2 separate regions of the Homo sapiens genome follow, and region 1 is linked to region 2. The links come from fine-mapping of genetic effects on gene expression. A gene starts in region 2. The other region holds a variant in brackets. All regions are shown on one strand. Distances are between the middles of the regions. Region 1 overlaps TNS1 (tensin 1). Region 2 holds the start of TNS1 (tensin 1).

Region 1 (2,897 bases), 160 kb after region 2:
GGATAGTGAGTGATTGGGAACTTTTTTGTAAATATAAGAGTCATGAGAATGTTTGTATGTAGAAGAGGAGGGGAGTAGGTTGGACATGGGGGGAGGAAGGATGAGAAAAAGAAGAGAAAGAAAGAAGTTGATAGAATAAGGTCTCTAAGGAGGTAAGAGGGGACAGGCCTAGGAGCCCATGTAGGTAAATTAGGCTCAACCAGGAGGTGAGATACCTCTTCATGAAATTAGAATAAAGGATAGATAAAGATAGAGGGAAATATTGATGTCAAGCTTTGGGAGCTTGAAGTGAAAACTCTTGTGTTTTTTTTTTTTTACATTTTGTTCTGAAAATAGGAGATGAGTTGAAGGCTCATTCAATCATTCGATTCAACATGAACTTCTAATGGGTGCTGCTTGCCAGTCTAGGCTTTGTGAAAATGGTGGCAAATAAAGATCCTTGCCCTTACAGCAGAGATGGATACTGAGCAAATAAGCACATATACATAGGATATGTCAGATAGGTGATACGTGCCATTGAGATAAAGCAGTGAGAGGTAGGGGGTGGCTGGCTGCACTTTACATGGGATGATCAGGGCTGGGCAGCGAGAGATGAGCCCCATGGAGCAACAAGTGCAGAGGCCCCGAGGCAGGAGTGTGCCTGGCATGGCTGGAGTAGAGTGATCAAGGGAGGCATAGCAGGACACAAGTTCAGAGAGGAAATGGGAACAGGGACAGCTTACAGAGGGTCTTTGAGGTGATTGTAAGAATGGTGGCTTTTACTCCGTGTGGCATGAGAAGCCTTAGGAAGGATTTGGGCCCAAGAGTGACATCATCTGACTTGTTCTGAATTGACCAGGGTGGGCAGGATGGAAGGAGGGAGAGCAGTTAGGTGGCTGCTGCTATTGATCTGGGCAGTGGCCATGGAAAGGGGAGAAGTGCTCGGATTTTAGACATATTTTGGAGGTAGAGCCAACAAGATTACTGATAGATTACACATGGAATGAGAGAGAAAGAGAAAAGTCAGAGACAACGCTTAGGTCTGGGGCCTGAGCAACTAAAGAATGGAGTTGCTCTTTATTGAGATGGGTAACAATTTATGAAGAGCAGTTTCAGGGGAACACTAGAAACATGACTTTTGGACACATTAAGTTTGAGATGACCATGAAACATCTGCAGTGGTTGGATAAATGAGTCAGGAGTTTAAGGAGAAGAGGCTGGAACTTAGAGATATGGGAATTGTTGACGTGTACATACCAGATTAAGCATAGCACTGGGCAATGTCACCGAGGGGTTGAGGACAGGTAAGGAGAGGTCCCAAGGATGGAGTCCTGGA[A/G]CCTCCCACATTCCAAGGCTACAGACAGGAGGAGGGAACCAGCATAGGAACTGGCATGGAGCAGCTTGTGAAGGAGAGGAAAGGTAACATAGCTTGAACTCTGGGGGCCAGGGCAGGGGCAATGTTGGCCACTCCTGTGGCCCCTGTGGTGTGAAGGTGGGTTAGAAGTCAACAAGGGGCAAGGAAAGGATAACATAGCAGGTCCTTCTAGTGCATCTGAGAAGGTTCATCTTAAGGACTTTTCTGGTGATGACCAGAAGCTGGGGGCCAGAGCAGAAAAGCACAAGGGGTTCCCCAGGAAAGAGGATCACTCAGATGGCTGTGGTAAGGAGCCAGGGTGTGAGAGAGGGTGACCCTTGGGCTCAGGCTGGGTGTGTTACCTGGGTCCAGGGAGAGGCAGGTGCCCAGGAAAAGATGGGTGGTCCAGGGACAGGCCTGCTGCCTATGGGAGCAGGTGAGGGATGCGTGAATTCTCCTGGTCCCACGATGGCACCTCTGCTTCCACCCTGGGGTTAGAAGAGAGGGAAACGCTGTGGTGCTGGCCAGCAGGAGGTCCATCTGCCTCTTGGAGAAGCAGGACCTTGGATCCCCCTCTCTTCCTGTCTGATACCTTCCCCACCTCCCTCCAGTGTGTGCCCAGATACCAGAGTCAGAACACCAACTAATCTTGATTTTCTCTTTGTTTTTGTTGTGTTTTGTCCTGTTTAATGCCCCGTCCCCTGCACTCTCTGTGTTTCCCATGTCCATCTGTTCCCTGTGCTGTTGGTGGGGTGCCTGCCTTGCCCCATATCCTCCCTTCCTTCCTGCCTCCCACTCCCTGCTGGCTCCCCTGGGGTGGGGGGTGGGCAGCGTACAACGCCAGGCTGCAGGGCATCGGACACAGTGGCAGCTTCCCGCCCCCTCCTCTCCACCGGCTCCAATCTTCCTCCCTCTCTGGTGGGTGGCTCTCCTTCCCCCTTCTCCCTTTCCAGCTCTTTGGCCCACTTTTGAGCATCAGTTTCTTTTCACTCCTTCTTCATGTGCTATTCCTTCCAAATCTTTCCCACCTTCTTCCTTCTCTCCTCTGTCTTTTCCTCTCCCTCTTCTGTTGTTCTCTGGTTTCCATCTGTTTCTCCTTCTCCTTCCCCATTTCTCACTATCCTCTCTTCTGTCTCCTCACTTACTTCTCCATCCCTCCTCTCTCCAGCCCTCTCTCCCTCCTGTCTGCATGAGCCAGAGCTCACTTCTGCATGAACATGGGCCTCATGCTAGCCTTGGCCTTGCCTGCTGGGAACAATGCCTGGAATAACTAGACTAACATTCAGGGTCCCCTGAGGAGATGCAGGCCTTTGCAATGAGGGTGCTCAGGAGGGCTCTGGACAGTCCAGCACTCCGGCCACCCTGGCCAGACTGCCTGGGCTGCAGGGCTAGGTCTCGGCAGGAGCCAGGCTGAGCTTTGCATGGGGCCACCAGACACAACACAGAGTGGTGCCCCAGCCCCTGCTGCTCTGTCCACTCTAGAGCATGGCACACCCTGGGGACAGCGTACCCCCTCTGGTCCCACTCCTAATCTCTGATCCCATGGCCAAGAGTCAGAAGCCCT
Region 2 (2,897 bases):
TGGAAATTGACACTTCACTTCAGTGTCCTCCCCTGACTTCTCAGAACCACCAAACAATAGATGGTTAGTCCCTTGTGCTGTGGACAACCTGTGTATCTGAATACTGCAGTCTTTTTTTCAGATGAAGAGTCAGTGTTTCCCCTTCATTCTGGGGTTTCCCAGGTAGATGTCTTGGGTGGTCCCTGGGCTGGGAGTTGGCACAAGTGGCTGGGCAGATCCCTGTGAAAGAGGAGGCTGGTAGTTGCACGGTATGTGGTGCTGACAGACAGCGGCATGGCATGGCCTTGGGTGAGTGGGGGGGGGAGGCAGGGGATCTGTAACCCTTCGTGCATGTGGCCCCAGGGCATGTATAGCACAGTGTGCATAGGAGGCCAGGCAAGAGAACTTTTCTTGCTAAGTGACTCAGTCTAGGAACGAGGTCTCCAAGTGCCTACTCTGGGAGGGCTCTTATGTGTTGACGTGAGTTGGACTGTGTCCTTGTGTGTGTGTGTGTCCACAGGAGGGTGTGGGGCTGAGCCCTCCCTCCTTCTCCTGGACAGCTCCAAAGAACAGAGCGGGTGATTCACTGGCCCCCACCCACCCTCAGTTGGTCCAGCCAAGGCCAGAGCTCAAAGAGGAAGGGTTTTTTTTGGAGGGGAACGTGGTGGTTCCAGACAATGAAGGCCTGGGGCAGACTTTGCTGGATTCCCCCTTAGTGCTCCGTGGGAATACTTTTGGGTTTTGACCCAGCCTCCTTTCCACCCTCTAGACCCCCAACAATTGTCCCTGGGCAGAGGTGGGGGCGAGGGGAGGGGAGGGCTGGTGGGCAGGGGACACTGAGGGGAAGAAATAGGCCTGTGGAATGGTGGGAGGGGAGAACTGGGCCCAGGGAGGGGGAGAGGGGAGGAGGGGGAGGAAGTGGGGAAATGCAAACCAAATGTTGGCCCCGGGTACAGTCAAGAAAAACACACTCTCGCGGGAGCCTGGAGCGGGGCTCCCTTTCAGAAGGGCAGGAAAGGCTGGGACAGATGTTTGCAGGAAAGAAAGAAAGAAGGGGGAAAAAAAAAGAAATAGGAAAAAAATTGGAATGAAACCCACAGCCTGGGGGCAGGGCCATTCTTCCCCAGTCTCGGGCCCTATTTCTTCTGTGTTAAGGCCTGTCCTGGGCTCTGAGCTTGGCGCGTGGGCACCAGAGTCTGTCCCAGTCTGTGTGTGCAAATGCATGTGTGTTCCGAGGAGGCCAGGAAGGCAGGCACGGGTACTCAGAGAAGGGGAGGGGCCAAGGCACCCTGAGTGTGCTGATTGTGTGGGCCTGGGGCTGTCTGTTCATCCATCAGTGGTCTGGAGGGTTCCAGGAGTGAAGGCCCCCAGGCTGGTTTGCCAGGGGCGGGGGTCTGCAGTGAGGAGGGAGGACTCCAGGCCTACCAGCACCAGATCAGAAGACTGAGGAGCCTTGGTGGCACACAGGGGTTGTGTGTCCGGGGGTGGGGGGCACGGCCTGGGGGGGCCCTGCCTCTGGTAGCTTTCCCTTTTCCCTGTCCCCTTTACACCCCCTGCAAAGCAGGGTTCCTGACCCTCAAGGCCACCGGTGGAGCCTGGGAGGAGGGAGGAGAGAGGAGGCTGGGACGAGGGGTGGAGTGGGGGGAGGAGGAGGAGGAGGGAGGGTGAGCTGGAGGCAGCAGGGCGAGAGGCCCAGCAGATGCTGGCGGAGCCGGAGCAGCCGCGGACTCAGAGAGCCCTTCTGCCAGCGCCGCGGGGACTCTAGCTTCAGGGGCTCTTCACAGGCCCTGGGCGTGCCTCAGTGACGGGACCCAGCAAAGATGACGTGGATCTGTCTGTCCTGCATGCTCTGGGTAGGTCTGGCTGCTTTAGCTGCGACGTTACTCTTCCTCAAACCCCCCGCCCCCCACCGGCCCCTGCCACCTTATCCTTTTGCTGAGAGCCCGGGGTCGGGGGGTGTCAGTCTTGAAGGAGGGGCCTTTCTGTCTCTGACCTACAGAAGGACAGACTGACTTGAGCAACCCTCAGCCGGAAGACTTTCCCCACCAACAGGGCCCAGGCCCAGGGTCCCGGGTCAGTACATCCCCTGCCCCACCCCCCCACCCCCCAATGGAGTCCCAGAGCTGTAAGTGGAAGGAGGCCACAGAGAAGTTTGCTTCTCTTTAGAGCCTTTCCTCCCGACTTGCATCCTACAATGGGGTGAAAATTCTTCACCGCCCCCCCTCAGTTGCTGAGCCCAAGATCTTGAGGAGGAGGCAGTGGTGGGGCTGGGGAGCAAAGAATAGTAGTCCAAAATATTAAGTCTGGAAGAGCTGGGCTGTGGGAGAATTCTCAGAGTCCATCCCTTTTATTCCTTCTACACCCAGTTTCAGCTTCCACCCACTGCCATCCCTTCCTCCACAGCCCTCCCCTGCTACCAAGACCTCTCCATCCTGGAGGAGGGAGCCATGGCCCGCTCTTCCCCCTTTCTCTCTTGGCTCCAGGTTCAGGGAGGTGGGTTTCAGGATGGGGATGCCAGGGGGGCCAGCAGAGAGGCCTGGGGGCCACGTGGTGAAGGTTAAAAGTCTTAAGGCCAGACCTGGGCTGAGGCTCCTGGGTAAAGGGGGATGGGAGAGGGCTGCCTGCTGCAGAAGGGCTGGGGGTCAGAGGAGGAGAGGACCCCTTCCTCAGAGGGGCTCCTGTGGGGCTGTCTTGGCCAGGCAAAGGCATGCATGGGGTCAGGAGGGTGAGGAAGTCGTCCCTGGCTGAGGTTACTGTTGGGCTCTGAGAGAGTGATGGCTGGTTTGGGGGAGGGGGCTTCAGGGCTGTGATCCAGATGTGGCCTTTCCTGTCCCTTTCCTTGTTCTGGCCAGTCCTCGGGAGGGCCCTCTTGGCCCAGGCAAGCCCATGCTGGGGGCAGTTGTGGGAACACAAACTCG

What was found.
Region 1: its variant is fine-mapped to the expression of TNS1 in whole blood (TOPMed, PIP 0.95).

What each region holds. Positions count from the first base shown.
Region 1 is chr2:217,840,553-217,843,449 of GRCh38, reverse strand. All of the region lies in intron 19 of TNS1 (tensin 1), which reads left to right. Among named protein-coding and RNA genes, the nearest start is that of SNORA115, 8.3 kb to the right of the region's middle. The variant A/G (reference allele first, on the strand shown) is at 1,316.
Region 2 is chr2:218,001,775-218,004,671 of GRCh38, reverse strand. TNS1 (tensin 1) reads left to right here and starts at 1,677. Exons shown (of 33, transcript NM_001387777.1): 1 at 1,677-1,832. The coding sequence starts at 1,800. RefSeq lists enhancers at 392-491, 2,232-2,732, 2,733-2,897.